Linked DNA regions of Homo sapiens. The protein of the gene in region 1 purifies or fractionates together with the protein of each later gene. This does not show direct contact. Each region holds a gene or a part of one and is shown on either strand. Other genes may lie near its edges.

Region 1 (3,939 bases):
CATTATTGAGAGTACTTTGAGATGTCTAACAGTGGATACCATTGGTAGTTTCCAAGCACCTATTCCAACTATCTCCCTCATTATGCCATGCACTTTGGCTAGGACTGAAACCACCTCAAGTTTAAGGGGCAATCTCTGCCTGGATTAAAACAAAGGGTCAAAGATGGAGTCTTTAGATTCTGGGACTATAATCTCTACCTTTAATCCTATACATCTTGAGACACTGATTTCTTCAGTAACAGGCTGAAGTGCTCTCAGTTGGTCTAATCAGAATGAAGGCTAAGATTTTGTTCTATTATTGAGGAAGAAAATATCTCTCATTCTGTCTTCTTGAGCTGAAAAACAAAGCAGATAGCCATAGATGTTGCTGGAATAAATCTTGGGAAACTGAGGGAGGGCAGTCTTAGAAATAAGCCTGCTTTAAATGAAACTAACATGCTTGTGCTTGTGTATTTATTATTTTTTGAGAAGCTGGAACTAAATCAAGGATTCTCATAATGTGTTCTACTCCCAATATCTTACTTTACTTTCTAGCAGTTCACAATTCCTTGCTACCAAGGAAATCTATATAAATGCCTTCTTGTGCTATCATAACTATCAAAGTATGTCCCATCTCATGGTTAATCCAGTTTCATATCCTCTGAGAGGACTTCTAAAATGACCCATGTATAGTTTGCCTTTTCATTACCACCTAAGGAAAGTCAAGTAGTGATAGAATTTTGTACAGCTTAAAAATATTATGGTTGTTTTATGTTTCCAGTCTTCTCAGAAAGATTACAAACCACTGGGAGCCAGGAATCACATCTTGTATTTCTGTATTCACCACAACTAAGCACGTTTGGTTGTATGGAGAAGGGGGAAAGATAAATGCTTTAAGATGAATATTAACAGCATATCAAACTAAAGAGAATATGAAATAATTATTACAGAACGTGCAATATATTTGTAATCACTTGAACACAATGAATAAAACAATATTTGTTTCCGGAGGACATATAAGTGAATGGAATTTAGGTAGCTTTCACCAAACTGTGAAAATCTATGGAGACACTTGGTGGCGCTGCAGGATAACATCGTGAAAAATATATTCACTGGATGGCGTTGTGAACACTGATATCCAGTGCACACAGAGAATCAGAAGACAGAAACAACAAGCCTTCAAGAGGGTGACCTGGAAACCATTCAACAGGGTTAAAATCCTTAGACCACAGAGGATTTGGTGGACAAGTCAGAGACGCGTTCCGCAGAGCTGAAGCCTTTCTTCAAGAAGCCTACAAGAAAGGAACTATGGAGAACCAAGGGACACGCACTCAGCAGATAAGGCAAGTCCTGCTTCTCTTTGTTTTGCTCGGAATGTCTCAGGCGGGCTCTGAAACCTGGAGCTTTTCTGTGGCAGAAGAAATGCAGAGCGGGAGTTTTGTAGGCAATCTGGCAAAGGACCTGGGGCTGAAGGTGAGAGAACTGTCCTCACGGGGGGCTCGGGTGGTCTCTAATGATAAGAAACAGCGTTTGCAGCTGGACATAAACACTGGGGATTTGCTCTTAAGTGAAACACTAGACAGGGAGGAGCTCTGCGGTTCCATCGAGCCTTGCGTGCTACATTTGCAGGTGTTAATGCAAAACCCCACGCAGTTTTTACAAATTGAGCTTCAGGTCAGGGATATAAATGATCACTCTCCCATCTTCTCGGAAAAACAAATGCTCCTAGAAATCCCAGAGAACAGTCCCGTTGGTGCTGTGTTCTTACTAGAAAGTGCGAAGGATTTAGATGTAGGAATCAATGCTGTAAAAAGCTACACAATAAGCCCCAACTCTCATTTTCACATTAAAATGAGAGTCATTCCAGACAATAGGAAATACCCCGAGTTAGTTCTGGACAAGGCGCTGGATTATGAAGAGCTCCCGGAGCTCAGTTTCATCCTCTCTGCTCTGGATGGTGGGTCCCCTCCCAGGTCTGGAACTGCCTTGGTCAGGGTGGTGGTTGTGGACATTAATGACAACTCCCCTGAATTTGAGCAGGCTTTTTATGAGGTGAAGATTCGGGAGAATAGCATCCTTGGCTCGCTGATTTTGATTGTCTCAGCTTGGGATTTAGACTCTGGAACAAATGGTGAAATATGCTATACCTTTTCCCATGCCTCAGAAGATATTCGCAAGACATTTGAAATTAATCAAAAGTCTGGAGAAATTACTTTAAGAGCACCTCTGGATTTTGAAACGATTGAGTCATACTCAATAATCATTCAAGCCACAGATGGGGGAGGACTTTTTGGAAAATCTACAGTCATAATTCACGTGATAGATGTAAATGACAATGCTCCTGAAATCACTGTGTCATCAATTACCAGTCCAATCCCAGAAAATACGCCAGAGACCGTGGTTATGGTTTTTAGTATCCAAGATATAGACTCTGGGGACAACGGAAGAATTGTTTGTTCCATTCCGGAAGACCTCCCATTCGTGCTAAAATCTTCAGTTGAGAATTACTACACGTTGGAAACAGAGAGACCACTGGACAGAGAGAGCACAGCCGAGTACAATATCACCATCACCGTCACCGACTTGGGGATACCCAGGCTGAAAACCGAGCACAACACAACTGTGTTGGTCTCTGACGTCAATGACAACGCCCCCACCTTCACCCAAACCTCCTACACCCTGTTCGTCCGCGAGAACAACAGCCCCGCCCTGCACATCGGCAGTGTCAGCGCTACAGACAGAGACTCAGGCACCAACGCCCAGGTCAACTACTCGCTACTCCCGCCCCAGGACCTGCACCTGCCCCTCGCCTCCCTGGTCTCCATCAACACAGACAACGGCCACCTGTTCGCCCTCAGGTCGCTGGACTACGAGGCCCTGCAGGCTTTCGACTTCCGCGTGGGCGCCACAGACCGCGGCTCCCCGGCTTTGAGCAGCGAGGCGCTGGTGCGCGTGCTGGTGCTGGACGCCAACGACAACTCGCCCTTCGTGCTGTACCCGCTGCAGAACGGCTCCGCGCCCTGCACCGAGCTGGTGCCCCGGGCGGCCGAGCCGGGCTACCTGGTGACCAAGGTGGTGGCGGTGGACGGCGACTCGGGCCAGAACGCCTGGCTGTCGTACCAGCTGCTCAAGGCCACGGAGCCCGGGCTATTCGGCGTGTGGGCGCACAATGGCGAGGTGCGCACCGCCAGGCTGCTGAGCGAGCGCGACGCGGCCAAGCACAGGCTGGTGGTGCTGGTCAAGGACAATGGCGAGCCTCCGCGCTCGGCCACCGCCACGCTGCAAGTGCTCCTGGTGGACGGCTTCTCCCAGCCCTACCTGCCGCTCCCTGAGGCGGCACCGGCCCAGGCCCAGGCCGACTCGCTCACCGTCTACTTGGTGGTGGCGTTGGCCTCGGTGTCTTCGCTCTTCCTCTTCTCGGTGCTCCTGTTCGTGGCGGTGCGGCTGTGCAGGAGGAGCAGGGCGGCCTCGGTGGGAAGCTGCTCGGTGCCTAAGGGCCCCTTTCCAGGGCATCTGGTGGACGTGAGCGGCACCGGGACCCTTTCCCAGAGCTACCAGTACGAGGTGTGTCTGACGGGAGGTTCCGAGACAAATGAATTCAAGTTCCTAAAACCGGTTATCCCTAATATCCAGGCAAAAGGTCTTGGGAAGAATAGTGAAGAAAACTCCACCTTTCGAAATAGCTTTGGATTTAATTTTTAGTAAGAATGCTATTTACATTTGCATGTACTTTTTTAGTTTTATGTAACCATATCAATATTATTTAGTCTTAAACTAGTTACGTTATTATGCAATACGACTAATTGTATTTTTAATTTTTTCTTTTCTCCCCCAATTTTTTTTTTTTTTTTGAGACCGAGTCTCATTCTGTCGCCCTGGCTGGAGTGCAATGGTGTGATCTCAGCTCACTGCACCCTCCGCCTCTCGGGTTCAAGCAATTCTCCTGCATCAGCCTCCCGA
Region 2 (3,500 bases), on another chromosome or scaffold:
ATTTGAATGCTCCCTACTTTGTTTCAGCCCTCATCACCATTTTAAAACAGGAAGGAAAGAAGAAAACTTACTGGCATGTTTAGTTTTAGTCATTTCATTATTTTCCCTTCAGTGTGAACTGCTGTCATGTTGAAAAATAAGGGGCTCCTCCCTCGATTCTCCCAGGAAAATGGTTCTTTGTAAGGAGAAATCATGCTCAGCTGTACCATGTTATCAAGTGGTTTGTTGTTATTTTTAAGCCCAGAAAACTACTTCATCAAGGATGGAAGTAGTTAACGCTGAGCAGTAAAGAAGTCACGCGGCCAATGATAAATCAGAACATTTGTGTGGGAGACTAGAAGGAACCTCACCACTGGTACGGTTTCCCCGCTTTTGATTTTTAAAGACAGGATGTAAAGTTCTGTGTAACTGTTGGATGCGGCACCTACTTCATTATGTACACGCAGCACATGTTAGTAACAACAATATTAGGCACACGAGGAAGAGGATTTTTTTCTAAAAGAATTCAAGGAACACATTAGGGGCGGTGGGATAGATCACCTGGGGATTGGCACTAGTTTACCACCACTCACAGCAACATCCACCATCTAGCTAACCTTTCTTTACTGACCTACTCCAGGCACACAGACACCTGCAGAACCAGTAAGAAATACCCACAGGCTACTTCAGCACTGACTTTGACCATAATCACTTATGTGCATTTCCCCAAAGAGACTGCACTGCTGGCTCGGCTTCCAGTGCAATTTCTAAGAATTTCACTTAATTTTTTTACACTTAAATTTTATTTTATTTTTTAGAGAGGGGGGTCTCACTATGTTGCCCAGGCTGGATTCAAACTCCTTGACTCAAGCGATCCTCCCGCCTCAGCCTCCCGAGTAGCTGGAATTACAGGAACATACTACCGTGCCCGGCTGAGCTTCACTTAAAGTTCATCTTAGGCAAGCCAGCATCATTATTATCTTAATTCACTGAATTTAACGATTTCAACCGTGAGCATTTTAGCCTTTCTCCAATGTGTCCGTAAGCATTAACTTCAAACCCAAAGTCCTCAAAGATAAAATCACCTGTGAGGCAATAACATTCCAAACCGACAAACAATGAAAACGGTGAGTGTTCACCAGACGTGCCTGCTGGGTATGCAGTACGTTAGTGTGACAGCGCAATTTTTAAAAGTTCTGTCAGCTGTGTTCCCGCACTGGGGCCTCCTCCCCACAACCCTGTCATGTAGACGTGAGGAAAGTGTGCCTCAGACGGGCTAAGTGACTCGCCTGTGATCACACAGCTTGGTGGTGGGAGATGTCAGGCTGTAGGACAACTCTTCTGTCTCCTCTTCCGAAGCACGTCAGCCACCCACCCAACCTGGATGGAGTTCCCACCCACTTGCCGTTCTCTGCAGCCTGGCCCCACCTGCCTCCCCTTTTCCGGCTACCTCAGGATTTTAACTCAAATACCACGTGCCACCGTGGGTGGAACACATCAACAGAGGAAGACCAGTTACGGAGCTTAATTAAGACAAGTTCTAACAAAAAGCAGGCTGCTTTTCGTAAGGCCATTACCCCTATTTGAATGCTATTCACTGTTGTGTAAGACGAAGGTAGAAAGTGTAGCCCCTCAGCATGAAGTTCTTTTTCCAAGGCCCCAGTCTCGGCCCTGCCTAGTCTCCTGGCTGAACTTGTGGTAAGAATAAAATAATGGTGTGGAAATGTTCTGGAAATGCCGAAGGGCCCTGCAAGCATGGCATCTCCTCCACTGGGAACCTAGGAAGGAGACAGGAACAAGAGAAATAAGAAACCTGAAAGGAAGGTCTGGAGATTCTAGGGAGCAGCCCCAAGGGGCCCATAAGGAATGGAAACCCAAAGAAAGAAACTCAAAATAGCAACAGTCTGCAGCTCTCGAGGGCTGGGCGCCTGGGATTCCAGCCCTCCCGTGCAGGAGTCTCTGACACGAGCTCAGTCTTCCTCAGCTGACTCCAAGTTACCTCCGATGCCAAGGAACAAGCCTCCTAACAGCCAATTGATGGCGAAACTTTTGTTTAAAAGCTGAAGGAAAGAAAATTCCCCCAAAGCTATACACAAAAGGTACTTTTTGAACTGAAAGTTATTCTGTTCCTGGAGATGTAGAAAACAGAAAACTGGCTCTGGAAGATGTAAGCCCTCATTTTCTTTCCCCCGATCCCTGCAGCCTTACATGTTCTGTTCTGGGTTTTTTTGTTTGTTTTGTTTTTGACTCTGTCATCCACGCCTCAGTGCAGTACTGCAATCATGGCTCACTGCAGCCTTCAACTCCCAGGCTCAAGCAATCCTCCCGCCTCAGCCTCTCCAGTAGCTGGGACTACAGGCACGTAGCACCATACCCAGCTAGTTTATTCTATTTTTTGTAAAGACAAGGTCTCACTATGTTAATCAGGCTGGTCTTGAACTCCTGGGTTCAAGCGATCCTCTTGCCTCAGCCTCCCAAAGTGCTGGAATTATAAGCATGAGCCACCACGCCCAGCCAAATGTTCTGTGTGTGTGTGTGTTTTAAGCCACATTTCCTGGCTGAGGTTACTCCCTAATAAGACAAATTTTCTGCCAACTGAACAACCATCTGCTCCCCTCGGAACCTGAGGAGGATTAGAGGTGTCCTGAACTCCACGGAACTCAACACCTGCTGCAAATTCCTGGCAGGCCTTATCTCAGCAGCACAGGCTCTGTGTGTTGGCCCCACCCAGATCCCTCCCCCGACTGGTAAGATCTTTTTAGAAAAAGAGCTAATAGGAAAAATTCCACCAAGATACAACACAGGCCTCGAGGGGCTGAGGGGGGAGGTGGCCAGATGCTGATAAGCCCAAGTCAGTGTGTGGTGTCAGAAAGAGAAAACTCTGGGCCCTACAGAAACTCAGCCCTGAGTTGGGAGGCAAAGTGAACTCAGAGGGAATAATCCTGCCTCACCTCTGGGGTCCTTGGATGTCTTCACCAACAATGCAGGCTATCTGTGGACCAGACACCTCCCAAAGCCCCCAATACTAAAACCATCAGGCTGAGCAGGAGGTGATGGGACAATTTGGAAGCATGAAAGAAAACAACGCCAGTCCAATAAAGAGAAGAAACACGGTGCTGTTTTCTACCAGCCGTACGTCCAAACACTACCAATGGGTATTGGAGGCTGTAAGAAATGTCAGGCCCTTCCCTCCTGCCATTCCACCCTGACAGGGAGGCTGGCAATGCAGCACCCGCTGCGGTAGGCATCACACATGCACCCTCAGGGTGCTCAGCCCGGCTGTGGATTGAGACCTCCAGGGGCTGCCAGGTGTGGAGCGGGAGGAGTGCGAGGCTTGAAAATAACAGGCCTGGGTTTGAAGGCAGGCTCTGCTGCTTCCTAACTACTTGCCCTCCTGTAAAATGGGGGTAGTGACCCCAGAGGGTTGCTATAAGAATGGAAAACAATGAACATGGCAGGGCTCGTCACATTCTCACGATGCACTTTAAGGAAATATTCCCACTGCGGTCAGCCTCAATCCC
Region 3 (3,500 bases), on another chromosome or scaffold:
CAATGCCAGGAATCTGGAGGGGAGTCAGACTGGGGCCTGCCAGCGGAGAACACAGGTGGTCCCAGCCCAGAGCCAGCAGACTACTGAGAGGAGCGGGGCAGGGGCTGGGGTACTCCAGATGAGGGAAGGAGGACCTGCCTGGGAGGTCACAGAGGGCTCTGTGAAGCCTGCTTATCAGAAAAGGCTGGAGGAGCAGTTTGTGCAAAAACTCAGGGGTGGGAGAACAAGTGTTAGGGTCCATATTCATTCATTCAAAGTGAGTCCCGGTGCAGTGGCTCACGCCTGTAATCCCAGCACTCTGGGAGGCTGAGGCAGGTGGATCACTTGAGGTCAGAAGTTCGAGACCAGCCTGGCCAACATGGTGAAACCCCATCTCTACTAAAAACACAAAAATTAGCTGGGCTTGGTGGCGCACGCCTGTAATCCCAGTTACTCGGAAGGCTGAGGCAGGAGAATCGCTTGAACCTGGAAGCCAAAATCGTGCCACTGCACTCTGGCCTGGGTGACAGAGCGAGACTCCCATCTCAACAAGAAAAAAAAAACCCAAAAACCAAAATGAGTCCCAGAAGCCCCTGCTTGGTGCCAGGCTGGAATGTGCAAGGCTGAGGATCCAGTCATTGAGCCCTGCCCTTGAAGGCTTCTCACTTTGATGAGGGATCAGAATTGTTGTAACAGTGCAGTGGAAGCCCCACAGGGTGGCCCGCAGAGAGCGAGGGGTCTTCAAGGTCCAAGAGAGGTTTTTCAGGCTGAACAGAGGCAGAGAACATGCTGGGCAGAGGAGACAAGGTCAGGTCAGCCTGTTGTCTGCCTGGAGTTGTAGGTGAGGCTGAGCTTACACAGGGGCAAGAAGTGGCAGGAAAAATGGGACTGGGGCATTAGGAACCACAGAAGGCTTTGGACTGAGCAAAGGCTAGCTCATATCTGAGGTCCATGAATTGGAGGGGAGACTGGATTGTACTCCATGGCCTGAGTGTGTTCAGAAGTTAGTTGTACCTGGTGTATTTGAGAAATTATTTGCCTTGGGGGATAGCGAGGCTGTGAGGTGGGTGGGCTCAGGTCAGAAGGGGCTTCCGGAGCCCAGGCTACACACTGGGCTCCATGCAGCTTCACAGAACCCTCATCTGTTATTCAGGAATCCAAACATCTCTAGAAGCTGAAAGTTCTTTTCTAGGTTCAGCACAAACTCATTTCGCTGCAGTCATCCTGAACTAATGTGAGGCTATTTGCGGACTTTTTTTTTTTTATCCCCTTAAGTGTGTCATGGTCTTAACTGCAGAAATATTAGTGGGTTTGATCATGGGGTGCTCCCCCAGGCCCTCCTGGGAGTTTATGTAACAATCTGTATGCCAGCCATTTGCCTCTCTAAAACCTGAAAGATTCAAAATTCTGAAGCCCATCCAGCTCCAGAGGCCTCCTCTTGTGAGCAGAGGGGAGTCACAGAAGGTTTGATGGGGGCAGGGGCAGGCTCTGTTGGGAGGGATGAAGTGTCAAGGGGAGGCTGCAGGTGGGGACTCCTGAGTAGGCTGGGGCCTCAGGAACAGAAGAGGGGATGGGCTGGTGCTATATCTGGGGCAGAAGGAACCAGATTTGGGTTATTATCTGCCTGGGAGAGCTTAAGGAGGGCATGAAAGAAAGGGAAAAAGACAAACAGTGTTGGATTTGCAACTGGTCTTAACAAAAAGAATTCACAAAGCATTTTATATTTTTAAAAATTCTGGCTTGTACTCATTTATAAACTAAAAAAAAATAACTATATGATGCAGGCAACGTGGTGAGACCCCATCCCTACAAAACATGAAAAAAATTATCCAGGTGTGGTGGCACATACCTGTAGTCGTAGATACTTGGGAGGCTGAGGTGGTAGGATCACTTGAGCCCAGGAGGTTCAGGCTGCAATGAGCCATGATTGCACCGCTGCACTCCAGTCTAGGTGGCAAATCAAGACCTTATCTCAAAAATAAAAATTTGGCTGAGTGCAGTGGCTCACGCCTGTAATCCCAGCACTTTGGGAGGCCAAGGTGGGCAGATCACGTGACATCAGGAGTTTGAGACCAGCCTGGCCAACATGGTAAAACCCCATCTGTACCAAAAAATACAAAAATTAGCTGGGCATGGTGGCGCACACCTGTAGCCCCAGCTACTCTAGAGGCTGAGGCAGGAGAATCCCTTGAACCTGGGAGGAAGGGGTTGAAGTGAGTCGAGATCATGCCACTGCACTCCAGCCTGGGGACAGAGCGAGACTCTGTCTCAAAAAATAAAAATAAAATAAAAATTCAACTATAGAAGGAAGACCCCAAGAGGATGACTCTCCATACCTAATAAGCACAAATTTAGTTTTTTTTTTAATCTTTGAATAGAGCACTTTGAAGAAAAAGTTAAGTAAACCTGCTATTGACTGTTAATGAACTACTACATTTTAAATCCTCTGAATCTCCTGTAGGCACCGTTTTATGAGTGTGACTTACCTAAACAGCATTTCACCAGCTTGAAAACAACCAAATTAAATGCAGAAGGGTCTTAACATGTATGTCTCAGAAAAATGGAGCTAATACATTCATTTGTGTCTGCATACCTTCCCTGTGGCTTAGGGCAGATTAAATAATCTCTCTGTGCCTTAGTCTCCTCACCTGTAAAATGGGGCCAAAAATAGGACCTACCCCAGGATTCAGTGACTCAGTATTTGTCACGTGCTACCTGGCATGTAGGAAGTCCCATGTAAGTGTCAACCTGCTACTGTTGTGTTTTTTTTTTTTTTTTTTTTGATCATTCTTGGGTGTTTCTCACAGAGGGGGATTTGGCAGGGTCATAGGACAATAGTGAAGGGAAGGTCAGCAGATAAACAAGTGAACAAAGGTCTCTGGCTTTCCTAGGCAGAGGACCCTGCGGCCTTCCGCAGTGTTTGTGTCCCTGGGTACTTGAGATTAGGGAGTGGTGATGACTCTTAATGAGCATGCTGCCTTCAAGCATCTGTTTAACAAAGCACATCTTGCACCGCCCTTAATCCATTTAACCCTGAGTGGACACAACACATGTTTCAGAGAGCACAGGGTTGAGGGTAAGGTCATAGATTAACAGCATCCCAAGGCAGAAGAATTTTTCTTAGTACAGAACAAAATGAAGTCTCCCATGTCTACTTCTTTCTACACAGACACAGCAACAATCTGATTTCTCTATCTTTTCCCCACCTTTCCCCCTTTTCTATTCCACAAAACCGCCATCGTCATCATGGCCCGTTCTCAATGAGCTGTTGGGTACACCTCCCAGACGGGGTGGTGGCCAGGCAGAGGGGCTCCTCACTTCCCAGAAGGGGCGGCCGGGCAGAGGCGCCCCCCACCTCCCGGACGGGGCGGCGGCCGGGCGGAGGCGCCCCCCACCTCCCTCCTGGAGGGGCGGCTGGCCGGGCGGGGGCTGACCCCCCCACCTCCCTCCCGGATGGGGCGGCTGGCCCCCCACCTCCCCCCCGACGGGGCGGCTGGCCCCCCACCTCCCTCCCGGACGGG
Region 4 (3,500 bases), on another chromosome or scaffold:
ATGTTCCAAGGTTTTTCTTTTTTTTAAAACAATGAATGTGTATTGTATCTGCCCTTCATCTTAATACATATTATTATTATTATTTGAGATGGAGTTTCGCTCTTGTTGCCCAGGCTGGAGTGCAATGGTATGATCTCAGCTCACTGCAACCTCTGCCTCCCAGGTTCAAGCAATTCTCCTGCCTCAGCCTCCTGAGTAGCTGGGATTACAGGCGCCTGCCACCATGCCCAGCTAATTTTCATATTTTCAGTAGAGATGGGTTTCACCATGTTGGCCAGGCTGGTCTCGAACTCCTGACCTCAGGTGATCCACCCGCCTCGGCCTCCCAAAGTGCTGGGATTACAGGCATGAGCCACTGAGCCCGGCCTGTTGTTATTGTAATTAACAAATGTTAGATGTCAAGGGATGACTTTTGCTTTTTCACTCTGTATACATTTATATCGCTTAGGTTAATTAATTTATTTTTGATAATAGGTATTTACTACTTGTGTAATTGAAACACAACCCCCAAAAAAGACCGAAAAAATTAATTTTATCCTGTAGCTAAAACCAAAATATTAAATGATATTAATATAATGAATGATGTCTATTTTATGCCTCCCTAAGTGTTTATGCATAAGCATCATCATTTGGGAGGAGTCTGTGAGAAATGAAGAATCTTGGGCCTCACTACAGGTCTCCTGATTCAGAATGCACATTTTAACATCAGGTCTGGGTGACTGGCATACATGGGAAAGTCTGAGAAGCACTGCTTATGCCATGATCAGAGATTCCCATGTGAAAATATTGACTTAATTGGGCTCCCAGATATGCAACTAAATAATTTTCATTATTTTATTGTCAAGGTGGATTTGAATCAAAGGCAGAGTTTCTTTGACATGTAACCAAGGACAACTGCACCTTGATTTGGGAACTGTTCTAACTTATTTATTGTCTAAGCTGTGAAAGAAAATATCACATTGCCCTTTTCAGATCAACTGTGACCAACCATATGTTCAAGAAATCTCTCAACAAGCCTAGAATAGATGGGACAGGTACTACAAAGGTTGAAAAGGCTTGGACTTTCCCCTCACTGCTGTGCACAGTGAGTCCTACTGCTTAGACATTTATATACAAGCAAATAACCTGCTATCTTCAGAGAGTTTTTACTGTTAACAATCCAAGTGATAGGAAGGCATGTAAGTGACACATTTTTCCACCAGTGATTTGGGCTGAATTCTGAGCAACAACATACTAACAAATGGCTGGCCATTTAGATGACACAGGATCACAGGACAGTTCAGATGTGCCCTCCTGGAAAAGGAATGTTGGTTCTTCTGCTCATCATCTAGTGCTAAGTGATGGGGGCAGTAGTGCTAATACTACCAATTTTAGGTTCAGAGTAGCAATGGTGGTAGTCGTACAGAAAGATAACCTGTTTATTTGCCCTTACTTTCACATTCAAGAAAAAATAAATAGAGTAGTAGAAGGTGGGAAGGGAAGGATTAGAGTGGTTATATAAAAGTGGTCTAAACAAAGTATTTTAAAGATTTATACACTAGAACTAAAATGGCATGTATGTTTTAAATGTATTTTGAAGGCCTCCTTTGAATTTTTATTTATAATAAAGTTTATTACTTTATTTCCATTATAAAAGTGACATATGCATATTATAGAAATAAGGAAAAAGGAAGAAAGGAAAAACCTCACACCTACTTTGTAGTTTATCTGTAAAGGTAAAGTATAATGCATATTAGCATAATTACCTCCAATGGCGATAAGTCGATCTCCCCGCTGAAGATCTGCAATTGCAGCAGGCGAGTTTGGAGCCACAGTTTCAATGATGACGTGCCCAGCATACCCATCAGTTGACTGGACAAGACGAAGTGTAAGTCCAACACTTTGTAAATTTCCTTTTATTAATTCAACCTTTGATAAAGGGGAAAAAAATGAAAACTGATTCAATGGATTCCTAGTAATAGAGGAAAAAAACAGTAACAGACTGTTATGTGCAGAGAGCACCATGGCTGATGCTGACTTTTCTATCATGGCAAATAAAGGAAGGAGAAAATCTTTACTGTAACAATATAAATTAACTATCCTTAGGCTACACATTTAAATCATCAAAAAAATTAAACACTTTATCTTCAATGTGTTTTATTATTACTCCTTGCTCCATGCTCATTGTAGAAAATTGGGAAATAAACAGAAAGGCAAAATAAAAAGAAAACCATTCCTAATTATACAATCTAGAACTATTCTATATATTTTCTAATATATATTTAACACAAAATTGAGATTTGTCTCAATAATACTGAGACATAGTAGTCAATACAATTATAATCATGAATATAATTCTGAATCTTGCTTTTTTCAAATATAATGAAAATGATCTATGTCATTCATAATATGTGCTTTGGAAACTCCATTTTGTATGGTGTATCCTTTTTTTTTTTTTTTTTTTTTTTGAGACAGGGTCTCACTCTGTCACCTAGGCTGGAATGCAGTGGCACAATCCTGGCTCACTGCAACCTCCACCTCCCAGGCGCAAGTGATTCTCTCACCTCAGCCTCCCAAGCAGCTGGGACTACAGGCGTGCACCACTACGCCTGGCAAGTTTTTGTATTTTTTTGTGTAGAGATCGGGTTTCACCACTGTTGCCCAGGCTGGTCTCAAACTTCTGGGCTCAAGTGATCCGCCCACCTCAGCCTCCCAAAGTGCTAGGATTAAAGGCGTGAGCCATCCCACCCGGCCAGTGTATTCTTCAAGTTTCTTTTTTGGGAATAGGCAAAGGAAAAGAGTTTACATTTATACTTTATTAAGAGTTATCGGCCGGGCACAGTGGTTCACGCCTGTAATCCCAGCACTTGGGAGGCCGAGGTGGGCGGATCAGGAGGTCAGGAGATTAAGACAATCCTGGCTAACACGGTGAAACCCCGTCTCTACTAAAAATACAAAAAATTAGCCAGGCGTGGTGGCAGTGCCTGTAGTCCCAGCTACTCGGGAGCCTGAGGCAGGAGAATGGCATGAACCCGGGAGGCAGAGGTTGAAGTGAGCTGAGATCACACCACTGCACTCCAGCCCGGGCAACAAAGCGAGACTCCACCTCAGAAAAAAAAAAAGAGTTATCATGTGGTGGGGATGATGGGGATGGTGGTGCACACCTGTAATCGCAGCTACTAAGGAGGGCTGAGGTGGGAGGACCATTTGAGCCCAGGAGTTCAAGACCAACCTGGGCAACATGGTGAGACCCCATCTTTATTTAAAAAAAAAAAGTTACATTGTTAATGAGATGTCCTATTCTAACCCATCAAGATCATTTTGTTTTCTAAATAAACCTGCCATCCAATTTTCAGGAATGTGGATACTAGATTAACATCATCTGTGAATTAACAACAACATCATCATGCTATGTGTCCTCATTCAAACAACTGATTTAAAAAAAAAAAACAGGCAGAGTGCTACATCCCAGCTGTTGACAAGGATTCAATTAGTGTTTATGGCGCTCAATTACAAATCAG

The links. Proteins that work in one complex are often made in the same cells at the same time.
Region 2: the proteins of PCDHB11 (region 1) and EMILIN2 purify together in Homo sapiens (affinity purification with mass spectrometry; 2 studies listed by BioGRID and IntAct, with this or other methods). This does not show direct contact.
Region 3: the proteins of PCDHB11 (region 1) and XRCC1 purify together in Homo sapiens (affinity purification with mass spectrometry; 2 studies listed by BioGRID and IntAct, with this or other methods). This does not show direct contact.
Region 4: the proteins of PCDHB11 (region 1) and PDZD8 purify together in Homo sapiens (affinity purification with mass spectrometry; 2 studies listed by BioGRID and IntAct, with this or other methods). This does not show direct contact.

What each region holds. Positions count from the first base shown.
Region 1 is NC_000005.10:141,198,488-141,202,426, forward strand, and holds the start of PCDHB11 (protocadherin beta-11 precursor), read left to right. Parts: upstream 1-1,139; 5' UTR 1,140-1,287; coding exon 1,288-3,681; 3' UTR 3,682-3,939. UniProt on the Homo sapiens protein: Potential calcium-dependent cell-adhesion protein. May be involved in the establishment and maintenance of specific neuronal connections in the brain.
Region 2 is NC_000018.10:2,853,506-2,857,005, reverse strand, and holds part of EMILIN2 (EMILIN-2 precursor), read right to left. Parts: intron 1-3,500. UniProt on the Homo sapiens protein: May be responsible for anchoring smooth muscle cells to elastic fibers, and may be involved not only in the formation of the elastic fiber, but also in the processes that regulate vessel assembly. Has cell adhesive capacity.
Region 3 is NC_000019.10:43,548,028-43,551,527, reverse strand, and holds part of XRCC1 (DNA repair protein XRCC1), read left to right. Parts: intron 1-3,500. UniProt on the Homo sapiens protein: Scaffold protein involved in DNA single-strand break repair by mediating the assembly of DNA break repair protein complexes. Negatively regulates ADP-ribosyltransferase activity of PARP1 during base-excision repair in order to prevent excessive PARP1 activity.
Region 4 is NC_000010.11:117,288,441-117,291,940, forward strand, and holds part of PDZD8 (PDZ domain-containing protein 8), read right to left. Parts: intron 1,909-3,500; coding exon 1,746-1,908; intron 1-1,745. UniProt on the Homo sapiens protein: Molecular tethering protein that connects endoplasmic reticulum and mitochondria membranes. PDZD8-dependent endoplasmic reticulum-mitochondria membrane tethering is essential for endoplasmic reticulum-mitochondria Ca(2+) transfer.